Linked DNA regions of Homo sapiens: region 1 is linked to region 2. Evidence: fine-mapped expression QTL. A gene starts in region 2. The other region holds a variant in brackets. All regions are shown on one strand. Distances are from middle to middle.

Region 1 (8,341 bases), 50 kb before region 2:
GTTACAGTGAGCCAAGATGGTGCCACTGTACTCCAGCCTGGGCGACACAGTGAGATTCCGTCTCAAAAAAAAAAAAATGTTCTCATAGTGTTTACAATTTGAAGCAGATCATTCAGCAAGCTGAAATCAGGTACTTTGTAGTCTTTCGATGCCCCAAAAGATGGAACAATCGTTTTTAAAAGCTGCACATGGACTTAAAACTTTCTAGTTGTATTCCATACCTGGCACAAAATAAGTGTTCCATGAATTTGCATTTTTATTAGTATGCATCTGAGACAAACCTGAGAAGCAGAAAAAGATTTAACATTTTCTGAAGTAGAAAAGGCCACGTCTCTGTCGGGAAACAGCAAACAAAATTAACAGATCTCTTTATTAAAAGATCACAATTATCTCCTCACATGGAATTCTGTCTGATCTCAACATTAGTTATAAATGTTTTCCAGACTTTGAAAATGTCAGAAATATCCCTTTCAGAAAGAATAAATGTAATAGTGTTATGAACGTTTGTTAACTCAGGTAGCAAAGTTATGGATTACATTAGCAAAGTAGCTTCTTAAGCTCTCTTTATTCATCTGCAGTCCTGGAAAAATTAAGTATAATTCCAAGTAGATAAGATTCATAGTAAAAAGAAAGCTTCCTAAATGGCATACTTAAAAGTCAAGTACATGTTAAAGTTGCATGAGGAGAGGCACAGTGTTGACTATTTTTGCCAGTGAGAAAGCAAAACTGTTTAATGCCTGATAGGCCTTCTGCAATTCTGCCTCCATGCTATAAGATGCTGATCGACTCAGCAGCTAGCCTATCCAAATGAGCCTGCAGGAAAAGGAATGAACTATGAAGCCAGCAGTAAGGGGATTCTGAGGAGGTATATGATAGGAGGGATAAAGAATCACTGGCCATAATGTGATGAGGCATATAAAAGGCTGCATGGAAAAACACCAAGCCTAAACCAGTAAATACTAGTGAATATATGGTATGCACTAGTACATACAATAGGAATGTGGTAGGATCTTGCCAATTTGAATCTCGCTATTTAAAACTGTGAGTCACATCAACATCTGAAAATCCCATTGATAAGGTTCATTGGATGACCTCCACATACTTGTTCCTTGGTCTTCTTTCATTGTTACTGAAGACCTTCATGCTATTCTTGGCCTCCACCAAGGGGTGGGTGAACAGTTTCTGGGAGGGCTCTGACTAAGGGTAGAAATAACCCTGGAGAAGCTGGGTGGGGAGACAGGGTGAAATTCCAAACCCTCAGTATTAATAGTCTACTACATCATTAATAATTTTTGTATTAACATCTGCCATTTTAGAAAGAATGTCACATTTCAAATTGTCATTATCACTGGATAAATCATAAAACTATACTATTGCTACAGTTTTTTATTCTGGCACTTGATCTTGATGAAAAAGCAGTGGAAAATGTAATTTATTCAATAGTGTAACATCATTTGCCAGCAACCATATACAAATATCACAATGTGTAAATATAAATTATTTTATATGTTGTTTTACAACTTATGCAAGTCAAATCATCTGGTTATACTTTCATAAGACTGCAACCAGAAAGACAAGAAATGACAACAAGAACATTATTTTTCTTTTTCTTCTGCATTTCAGTCGACAGACTGTGGCAAAGTAAAGAATGCAGATTTTAATATAAGATTGAGACAGACTAGGGCCAACTCTGCAATTTATTAATGTTTTAGCTGTTTATTCTCAGGCAACTTACTTAGCTTTTCTGACCCTCAGTCCTGCTGTTTGTAAAAGGAGGCTAATTATGACTACCTTATAGAGTTGTTGTAAAGATAAATTTGATGCTGTATGCAGAGTGATTGCTACAGTGCTTTCAGTTGAATACATACTCAATAAAATGGCAGTTGTTATTAGTCTAGGGTTCACATTGACCTTCAGGAAATAGCTATATGTATAAGCAACAGAACTCTGTCCCATGTAATTTAGACATATAAAGGGTTTTTTAATCAGTTGTTTCCTTTTATAAATACAAACCCCAAGACTCTTGAATCAAGAAACTCAGATACCATTCAACATTATTGGCATTGGCTGCTGGAGATAAAGCCAAGAAGCAAAGTGTTTGATTACTTGTCTTAAACAAAATTTAAAATTCCTCCATAATGGCCAAATAGGGGAGGATAGAGGTCATTTTGAAATGCACAAATAAATATGCCTAGAGTCAAAGTCAAGGTAGCTTTCAATATAGAACATTCCAAAGCAGGAGCACATCTTGAATGTATAAATTCATGGCCAAGGGATCAATCAAAATGCTTCAGCTTCTTTTACCTAATATGTAGGCAGTGACCCTACAAATGAAGGGAATGAGAATTTTTAGGAAGATAATCCTTTAAAACAAAGACCTGGGGTAAATAAAATAAAAGTATCCTTCTAAGGTGTTAACAAACACATTATTCCTTGGATTACTCAATATACTACAGCAGTGACATGTGGAAGGGTCACTCCTTTAAATACTGGGAACAATGACCAAGAAGGTAAAAGGTCTTGATGTAATCATCCAATTTCCTGATGTCATAAGAATCCAAGCCCTATCTAAAATTCCACTGGACTTATAACTTATTTCCATAAGGTTCTATAACATGGTATATGCCTAAAATTATGACAGCATTTCTTTGCCTAGGAAATCCTCCCTAGATGAGCAATAGTATCCTTTTAAATACAATTATGGAGAGATGACTTCAGTGACTTGGCAAAACTTCAAAAGAATAATACAATTTGAGAATAATGTCATTGTTATTTTCTTCTTAAAAAAATAAAAACCTTCTCTTTGTCTCACAATAGAATAATTCTTCCTGTACCCTCTCCTACTCCCCAATAAATAAATTAGAACTCTACCATCAATCAAAAGAGGTTAAATAGAAGGAAAGATAGATAAGAAATGACTAAGTAGAAGTAGGTGGGTCTGTCAAAGTGAAATAAGGCTGAGTAGAAGAGAATTATGGAAAGACACTATTGGAATAACTCCAATTCTTGAATTTTTGAATTCAATCTCTAGTTACCTTTTAAAATCTTTATATTTTGATACTACTTTCAAGAAACTAAAATGACCAAGTGTTGAACCTGTTTCATATGGTAATACAATTGCCACTCTAGAATTTCAACAGATCTGGTAGGGTATTGCAGATGAACTGGTGATCTACTTAAAATTTACCCATGGGAACCACACAAATTTCAGCATAATTTTCATGCTTCTGATACTGTGATTCCCAAACTGTGTGTGAGGTGTCTTGGTGCACTGCAGCACACTCCCAAGGGTGGCAGGAAATAATTTAAATCTTCAAGAGAAATACAGTGACATTCAGCATGTATCAGGTACCAATGAAGAACTAGTTGGAGGGAGTTCATAGTTTTAAGATTACATTTCGTTCTATTCTTTTAAATGACATTAATCTTTACCAAGCTGGTCAACTTGAAAATCAACACGGAAGAAGAAATCAGGGTAGTGATGACCAATCTGATTTCAGGATTTGAAAATTTCTGAAGTTACTTACTAAAACTGAAACATGTATCTCTACACTTGATACATTTGTATTATTTTTAAGGAGATACTAAGTTGTTAAGACATAAATAGTTGAGTTATTTGGACTTAACCACTTAAAAAAACAGAACTATTAGGTATTTCTTTTGACCCACGGGTGTCATGGAATAAAATCACTGAGAGACTAGGGTCTCATGAACTGAGAAAGTTGGAGAGGTTCTGTTTTAACATATGCAAGAATATATAAATAAGTGTCAACATCAGAAGTAAATGATGCTTTGGACTGTTGATTCTTCACAACTAGAATTAGATAATGCCAGGGAAGATATGGTTCTAGGTGATTATATTAAATATATGATTCAGAGCTTATACTAACCCTCAGGAAGCAAGCCAGATAGTCACTGATTTAAAAAGAGACCTTAAATAGATAAGATGCAGAGAGGTAAAGTACAAAACAGAGAAAGCCTGCTTTGTTTGACTCTCTTTCTCTCTTGTCTTTTTTCCCTGGTTTCTATTTAGTTTCTACCTATTGTACTGTGAGGTTTCCTCCTTAAAATGTTTGTAGATATCGACCCCGTAGACCTGGTCTATTTGTATAAAGCAAAGGTATACTTTTTTCCCCTGTCTTAGAATTACATAAAAAGTAAAATCTTGTATCATTTTTATTTTCAAAAATTATACAGTGCTTTGTCATTCATCAAAGAGTCAGCTACTAGAAACTGTCAAACTGTTTTATTCATATATTTTATTGATCAGTATTTATAGATTGCACTGTTCCATAAATTCTCTCTCATGGCTTATCCTTGTTCTGTATCTTTCTTTTGTAGGTAATTTCCTGGTACAAAAATAGTTGAGTTGCCAATTTAAAATTGTACTTTAACCAAAAGAGTCATATCTACTAAGCGGTTACTGCTGCATTACCATGGTTGTCGATTTGACATAGACGTTGTTTTTCAGATGACAGTTTCCGTCATTGGGCACCACTATGCCTGCCAATTTGCTATCAAGAGCGAGATGAGACGTCTGATCTGTCATCACCAGCAGCAATCTTTTAGCCTCTTTTCGCCATCCGATATGACTCTTAAAAATAAACATGTAATTAGACTTTGTACAATAACACAGATGTGTACTGTGGTTTTTACCTCAAGTAAACATTACGTTTGAGTTGACGAACAGTAAGTCAGGCTAGAACGATGTGCGTGGGTACAAC[G/A]CTGCTGCGTAAATAGCTTTAACTTTTATTTGTACATCCTCTATTTTCCCACAGCCATGTGACCACACTAGTTCCTGGCTAGAGATTTCTAGTGTTCCACTGGAGGAAGAACAATATAGATTAAAAAGTAGGAGAGGCCAGGCACGGTGGCTCATGCCTGTAATCCCAGCACCTTGGGAGGCCGAGGCGGGCGGATCACGAGGTCAGGAAATCGAGACCATCCTGGCTAACACGGTGAAACCCCGTCTCTACTAAAAATACAAAAAACTAGCCGGGTGTGGTGGCGGGCGCCTGTAGTCCCAGCTGCTCGGGAGGCTGAGGCAGGAGAATGGCGTGAACCCGGGAGGCGGAGCTTGCAGTGAGCCGAGATGGCGCCACTGCACTCCAGCCTGGGCGACAGAGCGAGACTCCGTCTCAAAAAAAAAAAAAGTAGGAGAACAAGCTGAAGTGAGGAGGGCAACAGTCTACTTCTAGTTCCTCCTTGGAGTGTGGCGCATGAGAAAAGCAGCCCTTTTGGAAAGAATTTTCGCGTTCATAACCTATTCTTTCCCTTTTGTCTTTTCCTATTTAAATCCCTCCCTGAATTTAGCCCCTCTGTCCCAAACACATACCGAAATGAATCACCTTGGTGAGGAGTAAGAGATAGTAAGATATGTTTTCTTCTACACTACGTTTTCACTCCACAAATCAAAGAGAAAATAAAACGTCTAAATTCTTTGAAAGTTTGGCATCTTAGCAAACACTCGATCATGTGAAACGTCTTACTTCACAGACAGCTGCCTGAAGCATGGCGTCAAAACCTCCTTCTGGTGTATCTATGTTTCCAGAGATCTTCTGTCTATGAACTGCTTTCTCAAACTCAGTGATGTTCTCTGTCAAAGACAGCACATGGATGTATCCATGGGGAGGCATGCAGTCTAAATTGTAGTCACTGTGTGGGAAAAGAAGAAGTGTAAAGTTTATTTTGCTCTTCTTAAGCATTCTGGAATACTTAACAGTAAAATTGTACAGTTGTGTGAAAAGGGAGTACTTCTTTTGTGCCAGGGAAACTTTATACGACGAAAATCTATGCTTATAAAATTAGAGATAAGCTCAATGCTGATGACAATTTCTTTGCAAATAGGAAATAAGACTATAAGCATTTGGTATTCAAAAAAATAAAGATGATTAAACATGTTTTTTAATATAGGACAGTTAAAGGCTTTCAATATTTAATCTGCGCTGTGAATTTTTAAGGTGAATATAAGAATGTGCAGTGATTTCTTATCATTGAACAGCTGAGAAACACTTCTGGAAAATGCTTTTGAGGAATTTAGTTGAAATATGATATTAGTTTTTTTTAATACTGCACTAATTTTTAAAGTGATGCTTGGTGGAATTATTGATGAACAATCAATATTCATTAAAATTATTTTGAGAATCTATGATACCCAGAAAGTAAGAATGATTCCTCCTGTACATTCACCTCAAGAAGGCTTATGAAACTCCATTGATGGATGCATCAATCCTGTTCCGGTACAACAGATGACAGAGCTGTTTCGGTAAATTGGAATGTGTATTGTAAAGTAATCTAAGCAATTTGTAGAAGCAAGAAAGATAAAGTCTTTTGTGAAAAAAGATCCATACAGATTTATTTTTCTGAAAATTCCACAGGCTAATGGCAATATTGTGTGAGACACTTGTATTTTTAAGGCTAATTCTTCTTTCATAGTGGGACATATGTTATTTAGAATCAGAAATCTAAAATGATAAGAAAAAAGGCTCTTTCTAAGCAATCAAATTCTCATCTTTTGACCCACTTTCTTTGTGATAACTGAGATTTCTTTGTAGTCACATCGGAGACAACATCATTATCCCCAGTCACAGTACAGTAATGGAGAGATAGATGACGTGTTGGCACAAACTCTTTAAAATGTGTCAAATCATAATTCAGCAATTTTGGAGCAATCAAAAAATAAAAATACAGAATTTCCAAAGAGGTATTTATATACATGGCAGCCTAACTATTGAAGCTTCATTCAAAGTTACTAACATTAGGTAGGGTTTTTTGTTTGTTTTTTTGTTTTTTTTGGTGATAAAAACTGACTAAATATTTAAAGAAATATAAAATAAAAAGCCCAATCTACAGTTCATCTCAGAAGTTTTCAGATATGAAGAAACCTCCCCACCTCACCAAATATTTTTATTCTTATTTTATAAGATAAAAATATAAAATTTGGTAAGTTCTTTACATTAAAAACAAAGTGAGATTTTATAAGCAAAAAATTAATTTAGCATATCCACATCAAACCCTAGATACCTGCATTGATTATGAATCCTTTCGGGGTGGATGCTAATGTATGGTGAAACTGTTTTATCAACGTATGAGCCAAATCCAAGACGAAAGTCACGGGAGAAAAATGCCATTTTTCTAGATAAATCGTTTCCAACGGAATTTAATTTTTCTATATTATTGTGCATTGATGCTGAGACATCAACAAGATAATAAAGATCCACAGGATATTTCTTCAGAGGATGAACTTTCAGCATAAAATTAGCTTCGGCTCCTAGTTCAATAGAAGAAAAACATCATGTAGTCTTCATTTTAAACTTTTCAGGATAAGCTCTTAATAAATTAGTCACATTCTAGCACCTAGCACAATCATCACAAATTTGCACATAAAATTTGGAATATGCTAGTGTAATTATAATAATTATAGTATAATTATTATTCTAGTATAATTATAAGGCAATTTGAAAACCATACCAATTTATTGGTCTCCAAATCCTACAGTTCATTTCCCACAATTCTATAGGCTGAATAGGGATAATAACAAATGGGCCAGCTCCATATAAATGTAACAGGGTATTGTATCATTATATGAACCTCCATTGCCTTAGTAGCTAGAAAAACACAGTGCAAACCAGCAAGCGGCATTCGATCTCAAGACAGTGAGGGGGATGTACGTGTGGAATGACTTGAGGAAAACTGGGAAGGTATCTTTAAAAAAAGGTGATCTCCTATTGGATAAAGGCATAAATTTATTCCTTTGGGTTAAAGTGTATTTACACAGGAGATGAGAAAACTCTGGTACTGTGTAGTACAGCAAGCTATTCAAAATAATTAGTACCTCATCACTAGTTAGTTGGTAAGATTCTTCCCATCAGTTAGCCAAGTGAAGGAATGAGACAGTGGGCTAAAGAATGGTGCCCTGCAGTGCCACATGGAGGACCTGGGGAAGGTAGGGGTCAGCATTTGTCCAACACACGGTAGGTGTTCAATGAACACATGCTGAGGAGGGGGCCCATGAGCGAGGCACCCACCTTGGGCAAAACAACTGGATGAGGAGAGGGGGCTGCCACAAGGACAAATGTCGGTAGTCCCCGCAGGGAACTACAATTTTATTTAGTTCTCTGTCATATTACTATTTGATACAAGGACTTGGGTTGTCCCCCCTAACCCTCTATAGAGTTGGTACCTCTACTTTTAATTTCAAGTATATGGTGAAAAGGCATCTATTTAAATGTAAGCAATTTGTAATTTGTAAATTTTACTTTTTTAAACTATTAAGTAAATGCTTTGTAAGTCATTATTTTTCCATAAGAATATTCCGAATGGAAAACATTTTTAAAATAAA
Region 2 (8,341 bases):
GTGGACAAAGGTTTGAAATGATGAAGACTGATTAGGAAGTTCATATTATGAAGCATAATTCAAGCTTTCTCTACGATGTTCAAATCCCATCTCTCCTACTTACTAGATAGGTGACATTGGGCAAGTTACTTATCTCCTCTGCTCCTGTTTATTTGTTTCAAAAACAGGGACCTCTCTCACAGTGTGATTATGAAGACTGGACAAGAAAATGGAGTTTGGTTTTGAATGCGTTAGGGTCTTTGCCTTTAGGCGTGTAGTGGAGACATGGTTTACACAATTTGCTGCACCTTCTGGAGGTCAGGTTTAGAGATAAATATTCTGGAGGTGTCAATGTGGAAATGGTATTTAAGACACAAGACTGGGCCGGGTGTGGTGGCTCACGCCTGTAAGCCCAGCACTTTGGGAGGCCGAGGCGAGCAGATCACGAGGTCAGGAGATCAAGACGATCCTGGCTAACACAGTGAAACGCCCTCTCTACTAAAAATACAAAAAATTAGCCGGGCGTGGTGGCGGGTGCCTGTAGTCTCAGCTACTCAGTAGGCTGAGGCAGGAGAATGGTGTGAACCCAGGAGGCGAAGCTTGCAGTGGGCCGAGATCGCACCACTGCACTCCAGCCTGGGCGACAGAGCAAGACTCCGTCTCAAAAAAAAAAAAAAAAAAAAAAAGAAAACCAAGACTGGATCAGAGAAGTCCTTAGGAGTGGGTCCTGAGCCACTACTACATTTAGAGGTTAAGAAATGAGGAAGAATCAACATCAGAGATGGAGAAGGAGCTTAAACCAAGAGAGTGTGGGTCCAAGAAGCCAACAAAACTGTTTCCAAGGAGGGCAAGGTCAACAGTGTCAAGTCACCAACAGATGATACATCAAGCAGGATGGAGATTAAGAATTAGCCATCAGATCTGGCAATGTGGAGGTTACCCTGATCTTAAGAGAGTGGACTGCAGAGGTGATAAAGAAAGCCTGCTCACAATGGATTCAAAGAGAAGGTGAGGAGAAGAATCGGAGAGAGGAGTTACGGACAACTCTTTCAAGGACTTATAGCAAAAGGAGAGAAAAAATAGGAGATAAAAAGGTTTTGCCACATATATGGATATTGCTTTAAATGATACAGTAGATAGGAGAAAAACTAATCATGCAAGGGCAGGCAGATCCTTGAAACTGAAACTTTACAAGGTATACCTGCTGTGATTCCATTGGAATAAAACAATTAACATTTGTCACGGGAAGCAGATTTACTCATGTTGTTTTTCTCTGTTCATATACATGCGTATCAAAAAGCTATTACATATCCATACTTTCAAAATAAAAATATTTTTAATGGAACTATAATAGAACTATTGAAAAGTAAATGGTTGAAACTGTGTCTTTCCCATTCCTCGTGTCCTTCTCTTTTGCAATTGCTTCCCTTAAAAATTGTGAACATTCTTGTTGCCCTAAGTTTCAGTTTTTAAAAAAATTCATGCTTTAAGATTAGTTACAGTGTGTTCCTCCTCCAGTAGTATTTTTATTTACTGAAATATTTTAAAATAAAATGATATGAAAAATTTCTTTCAAAATATTTAGTTGGGAGAAGGGGGTGAATTGGGTACCAGCAGGAGCACAGATGAAAGAAGTTGGCTTTGAGTTGATGGTTAATGAAGCTGGGTGATGAGTATATAGTGGTCCCTTATACCATTCTCTCTAATTCTGTATGCATTTGAAAATTTCCATTATACCATGTTAAAAACTTTAAAAAATCATAGGGTTAATACCATGGTTAACCAAAAAGAATCCATTAAGTAGTGAGATTTCAGATAATTTGGTAACAAGAGAAGAAGTTATTTTGGGGCACAGGAATTTTCCAAAGCATATCAGCTACTTTGCTGTCAGTTTAGAGGGCAAACATGTATGATTTTTAATTGATCAGAAAGTGTCTCCATTGCTTCAAGATAGAATTAATTTGGGAGCTTATTATGCAAATAATTTAGAAGGCTGAATTTTTTGTTAATGATACCTTGGTTCTTTTAAATATCCGATCACTTTAGGTAAGCATAAATAATTCTGGGAACACTTATGCTATGCAACGCTTTGAGGGGAAGTAATGATATGGTCACAAAATAATGTTAATCTAGTTGATTGTTGTTGAAAATAATAAATAATTGATACTTGAATAAACAGAAGGTGAAATTTCATTGCAATACACAGAAGGTGAAATTTGATTGCAATAATAGTTACCGCTTTTTTAAAAGAAACTGTGATATCTGAAATTTGTTACACTTATATTGCTATATAAAAATTTAGGTAATGAAAGTTCTTAATCTTTTAAAATAAGTAAATGTGGAAACAATGTTGCTACATTAACTCTTCAAATATTAACCACTAGATATACTTTATGTTTTTCTGGTTATTTATTGACCATTTTACAGTGCTATTATTTCTCTAGCTGTGGGTAATCTTCACCAGAGACAGTTAAAAAACAAACTGCTATAATTTTTGCTACATCAGAAATCTTTGGATTTGATTAATAACATCCCCCACTGCTCACTATATATTTGTTATTAAAAGTCCACTATATGTTCGAGACCTATAAATTCTGCTTTAAAAATTAAACCCAAAGTTATGCTGGTCTTATGCAGCTTCTGGTCTCTTTTGTATGGCTTTATTGCCCTCAACATTCTCCTGGTGTAAACTACTGAGCAAGGAAACAAGATTTCCATTGTAACTGATACCTAAATTTCTATTCTGCTTTAAGCATCTAATTTGCACTGTAAAGACATATAATTTGAGACTTGTAGCTATATCACAAAAGTACAGCAGTTTATGCTGATCTCTAATTTTCTGAGTTATACTGGCTATAATTTACATTTTTTGCATGTTTTTAACTGCCATGCAAATCAGTATACATCAGAAACCTTTGTATATTGACAGAGACTGGGAAAAGGATGCCTTGTTCTGATTTCAGATAAGCATTCCCTTTTCAGGTCTGCAGGTGCAAGTAGGCCCATTCATAATATTTCCTTCAAATCAGTTTTAGACACTGGGTAGAAATGCAATGCTTTTTCACAAGAGCCTGACTAATGTTTATAAGCACAGTTAATGGTTTTTAAAAATGTACTTTAAATAGTAAATTTTAGAGGCAAGTAGGACTTTTTCCTTTGCCTGTACGTTGGGAACAAAATATACTGTGTTAACACAAATTTTGGTCATTTTACTAGTGTGTATGTGTGTTTACTAAATCTAGAAAAGCACTTTATTACTTATTGAAACAGGATGAAATTATGCTTAGCGGAAAATTTGCTGCAACAAATGCATGTTTCTTCCATTTAAGAGATAACTGATAATGAATGTTACTTTTTCCTTTGCCTTTTCACTATTTTGAAATCAACAAACAAGCCAAAAAATAACCACAAGATAAAGAGATTTACTCTAATTTCTCCATTTCAGATAACTGAGCAAATCTCCCTGAAACAAATATTAGAAAACTGTATATGCAACAATTTCCTAAAGATAGCTGGATGTTTCCATATATCTCTATATCTATATATATAAAACCTACTTATAAGGTTATGATTTGACTGTTTTAATTAGCTTCAGGCAAAACCTTGACACTTTAAAGTATAGGAGTAAATTTTAACCTACAAAACAATTACAACTATTAATTAAACTCTCCTTGAGCCCAAGAGGTCAGAGAAAGGCTCTAATATAATTTAAGGACTTGGTGACCAAACAGAGAAAAAGTGAAATTAAAAAAAAAAAAAAAGAAAGTATGACAAGAGTCACTGCATTAGCAAAAATAAATGTTGGGCCTATATTGAAAACCATTAAGAACTCATCCTAAACTCATGATTCGTCCTATTACTTAGTTGTGTAATTTTCCAACAATCCAATCTGGTATACCACCTTACATTTGATTTTGTTTCATAAATCAAAAGTCCTAAAACACCTTCTCATATGCTATTTGACTTGAACTTTCCTTTGTGATTTAGAGAAGGCAGGTATTATTAATAAACCTCGTTTTACAGATGAGGACAATGCATTTCGTAAAGAGTTAACCTCTCCACATTAAGGTAGCTCTTACACAAATGGTTTGCCTGGACAGAAAGCTGTTAATCCTGGTTCAGAGTTCTTTCTGCTTCTCTGTCTCAGAGATTGATCTCAGTGAGGGATCAATTAGATAGTATTTTTTTTTTTTAAGCCGAAAGGATGATGACTTAAAGCATTAATATCCCTCCAGTGTGGGTAATTCATTCAGATTGAGCACTAATGATAGCAGAAACTTGTATGCTGTCTTTTTCTGGACTCAAAAATTGAAGACTACTCCCATTATAACCAACTTATCTACAGCCTCGAGTTAAAGGCAAGTTAGTCCTTAGTGGACCCAAATGTTAGAAAGATAGGGAGAACATTGTGTACAGACGATGCCCTTAAGAATGGACCAGGGCCCCTAAATGACTTCTGTAAACAGGACACCCTCTTTTCCAAAATTCCTTTCTATTAGGGCTTCCTCAACACCTAGGAGTAACACAGAGTGTCTCCTCTGATAATTAGTCCTTGCTGTCGCTCCAGGGCAGAAATGCTTGACACCTGGCCTCTAGGCCATCTGTGCTGGAGGACGCTGCCCCGCACCCGCCCCCTTGAAGTTCTCTGATGACCGCAACTTACCTGGCCGGGATGCTCTGGCCGGGCAGCTCTTCGTGCCAGCCCAAGACCTTTGGGGAAGAGAAGAAAACAAAACAAAACAAAACAACTTACCACCTTGGCCCAGTCCAAGAACAAGTGAAAACACCCAGGCTGCCCAGAGGAACGAGGCGGGACCTCGCCGGTCGTTTTGCAGGCAGACAAATGCAGCGGTAAAAAAAGCCAGGGCCGAGCCGCACATAATGCAAAACAGCCCGCCCCGCGCCCGCCGCCTGACTGCCTTCCGGACGCGGGCTCGCGCCTCCCGGGCGCACCTCGGGGCCCGCGGGCCGAGTGTCGCTAGGACGTTTTCCGCAGGCCTAGCAGGCGGACCCCGCGGCTCGGAGCAAGCGGTGCAGGTAAGCGGGCCCGGGCACCGCTCGGCATCTCAGGGCCCCTGCGGCCCTCCCGGCTCGGCACGGCGGGTCCCGCGGTCTCCGCGAGAAGCACCTCCTTCGACGGCCAAGGGCCCCGGCGGCGACTGGAGAGAGGGCTCTGCAAGGGCTCCGCAGCCTGCTCCGGGACAAAGAAAAGAGCTTTTGTTTCTCTCCAGCCGGTGGGGCTTCTGCTGCATAAATCAGCTTAGCGAAGAGCCAAACACAATCAAACCCAAACAAAGCCCGAAGCTGGGGGGGAAACCACCCTAATGTACATTCACTGGGTGATGCTGGATCTGTGGGAGGGGACGCCGGCGAGGTCGAGGGGAAAAAAGTCTGTGGCGCATCAATCAGCGCAGTTGCTTCCACAGGTGGGCAGGGAGGCCAACACCATTAGTTGCAGCTTTGCAGCCCCGTCTGCGGAGCAGCGGGCAAAGACAAGTCGGCAGCGTCCTGGCTGGCAAGGGAGGAAGCTCGGGATGCCAGCAACAGGGGGAGGCGGCTCTGGGAGCGCCCTAGAAGCACCCGCCGACACCCGCAGGCACAGAGCGAGGCATCGCCGCTCCCTCCCTGGCGGGGAGTGGGGCCTGCGGCTGCGAGCGCAGGAGGGGAGGTTCCGCGAGGTGCCGGAGCCCGGCTTCGCGGGGCGGGGGCTGCGTGCCCTTGTCCTTTTCGCCTCAGTGCGCGGCTCAGGCGTCCCGCAGTCCAGAGCCCGAGTTGCTGGCGCGCTCTGGGGTGCACACGGCTAGGATGCGAGAGAGGCGAGGCCGGCGATGGGCGGGAGAGGGGTGGTCCTGCTCTGGCCCCCCGGGGGGCTCCAGACCTGCGGGTAGCCGGGTGCACTCAGGGCAGAGAGTTGCTAGGAAACCTCCCCACGCTACCGGAGCGCCTCGCCTCGGCTGCCCGCAGGCGCGGCTGCAGCCCGGGCAGGAGCAGCAGTAACAGCTCGGAGCAGCGTGGGCGGGACATTGGTGAGGCATGAAGTCACCGCGGCCCACACTCGCTCTTTGTTTTGCTCACTCCAGCTCTTTCTTTTCCCCCTTGGCTCTGATAGTTGCCATTCCCATCGTTCACAAGAACTCCTGAAGCGTAGCCGCGCAACAGGAATGGCACGCCTCGTTCCCTTCTCCCTCCTCCCCCGAATCCTTGCACCCCAACGCTCGCGGGGGTGGTGGGAGACTCGCTCAGCGCCAGCGGCAGCTGCGAGCAAACCCCAATCTCTCACCCCCGCGCTGCTCGCCGCTTTGTTCGGAGATACTCACTGCCCCGCAGCTGCTGCATACAAAGTGGAGTCAAGGGACCTCCCCTGCCCCCAACGCCCTCTACTCAGCACTTTGCTTGCAGTTAGGAGCTCGTCCTCTACCCCACCACAAGGCTGCCCCGGTGTCCCTAGCCTTTGGAGAGTTGGACCAGTCTGCAGGGGCTGTTCCCGGAGCGACTGGCCGAGATTTCTCGCTGCTCCTTCTCTGCTCAAAACCTTAACCCTGGACTGGACAGCCCTGTTTTTCCCCAGCGTCTGGTGGTGGCTCTGGGCTTTTGCAAGTTACAGTGGGTCTTTTGATCTTAAGCGTCACCTTCCCAGTAAACGGAACAAAAAGTTACAGACAGCAGCAAAGCGGGGAGAGGGGAGCTAAGGAGAGAAAGTGGAAGGCACTTCTGCCTGCTTGCAGCTCAGAAATTTAGGTGCAAGTAGGGTGCGGGTGTTATGCTGGGCAACTGCCCGGAAGCAGCGCGCCTCCTCGGGTCCTGTCATTACCACGCTAAGTCGAGGGAGGGAACTCAGTCCCCCGCATTGGAAACAAGGCAGTGTTTCCAGTTTAACACGGTGATGGTTCTCTTTTCCCTCTAGGGGCAGGAGCGATTCCCATTCGAGGAGTTTGACCTCTCATTTTAATACAACACCCGCCTCTTAGAGGCAGCAGACCAGTCCAGCCAGGTCAAGGTGAAATATGCGGGAGTTTCCCCCCTTCTTATTTAATAGTTTCCGTCTCCTTATTTGTAGTTAAAAAAAAAAAAAAAAAAAAAGTAGGAGGCGCGGTCTCTCTCTTTCTTTCTGTTGACTGAGTGAATGGAAAGTACCTGGTTAATAAACCACAACATCGAAACTCCCCCTTTCAGGTGTGGACCGCACAACGGGGTGCACAGGATTAGTTAAGCAAAGCAGGAACCCAGCTGGAAAATTAAACGAGCCCTGGATCTGCAAAGCAGGTCCCTTCGCGAGACCAAAGCCGTGATCCCAACCTTAGCAACATAATTCTACTGGAGGTGATGTACTCTAAATAAATAGAAATAAATCCAGCTCCGCTTTAATATTTATTTCCTTTCCTTAGTTCCAAGTTTGAACAGTTATAGTTTTGTTTTTTGGTTGTCTTAAAGGAAAGGCCTAAAAATTAGTTAGGATGGGTGTGAGGACTTGAAAATTTGAACACAAAAATATCATATTCAATATCTGATTAGTGACTCTTCCATTGGGCAGCCTGGGTATTTTCCAGGGGTTATGTCACAGACCTACTGAATGCAGCCACCCTTGAGACATGCAGTGCTTCAATCAAAAAAAAAAAAAATTAAATCCCTAATTCCCATAAGGACATGTCAATACACTTTAAAGTGTCTATCATATCACCATTCCATAATATTCTAAAATACAACTCTTTGTTGCTGGGTTGTAAGTGGCAGTTACAGTAATAAATAAAATATAAATGTATGCAAACAAGAAAGGATGTAACTTTATGAAATTGATGAGGTATGCACTAATTTTTGTAACTCTGTTTTTAGGTGTTGATATATATACTAATCCAGAACAACCATGTAGCAAGAGGAATAAAATGAAGTTCAGAAGTCTGTTTCGGGAAATTTTGAAGCCCTTTAGAAAGAAAGATTTCTACATTTTGTTACATGAAATTCATGCAAATATATGTCAGGTGCCAGTGCTATGGAGTTGTTGAAGAATAAGCACAATACCATTTATTACCACTTCTCAGTTGTAAAGAGGCTGTAACTCTGGTTGTCGAAATAAAATAAAATGAAATCTCCTAGATGTGACACTGTGACCCCTGCCAGTTATTTACAAACAAGTTATCTGCACATTTTGGGCTGTAAACATAAAAGTAAACTCTCTGAAAGACTGCAAATCATCTTTAGGGTTTTCTTAAAGTAAATACAACTAGTGGCCCAGGAACCAAAAGTTTGCTTGTTTCCAGTTAATGTCACTGGTCACCATAACTCACCCTTTTTCCTATGAGGAAATGTACAGCATATTTTAAAGAAATGCAGTATTGTTATCTTCGTCATATTACCTGAAGAATTC

The links. PIP is the estimated chance that this variant, and not a neighbour inherited with it, causes the effect.
Region 1: its variant is fine-mapped to the expression of ITGB8-AS1 in pancreas (GTEx, PIP above 0.99).

Annotation. Positions count from the first base shown.
Region 1 is chr7:20,377,980-20,386,320 of GRCh38, reverse strand. It overlaps ITGB8 (integrin subunit beta 8), which reads right to left. Exons shown (of 14, transcript NM_002214.3): 4 at 7,024-7,270; 5 at 5,490-5,655; 6 at 4,436-4,594. Among named protein-coding and RNA genes, the nearest start is that of ITGB8-AS1, 50 kb to the right of the region's middle. The variant G/A (reference allele first, on the strand shown) is at 4,725.
Region 2 is chr7:20,328,325-20,336,665 of GRCh38, reverse strand. ITGB8-AS1 (ITGB8 antisense RNA 1) reads left to right here and starts at 4,904. Exons shown (of 3, transcript NR_110120.1): 1 at 4,904-5,016; 2 at 7,153-7,299; 3 at 7,810-8,341. It overlaps ITGB8 (integrin subunit beta 8), which reads right to left and starts at 5,766. Exons shown (of 14, transcript NM_002214.3): 1 at 4,733-5,766. The coding sequence starts at 4,859. RefSeq lists silencers at 4,806-5,045, 5,516-5,905 and enhancers at 5,986-6,275, 6,376-6,445, 6,533-7,145.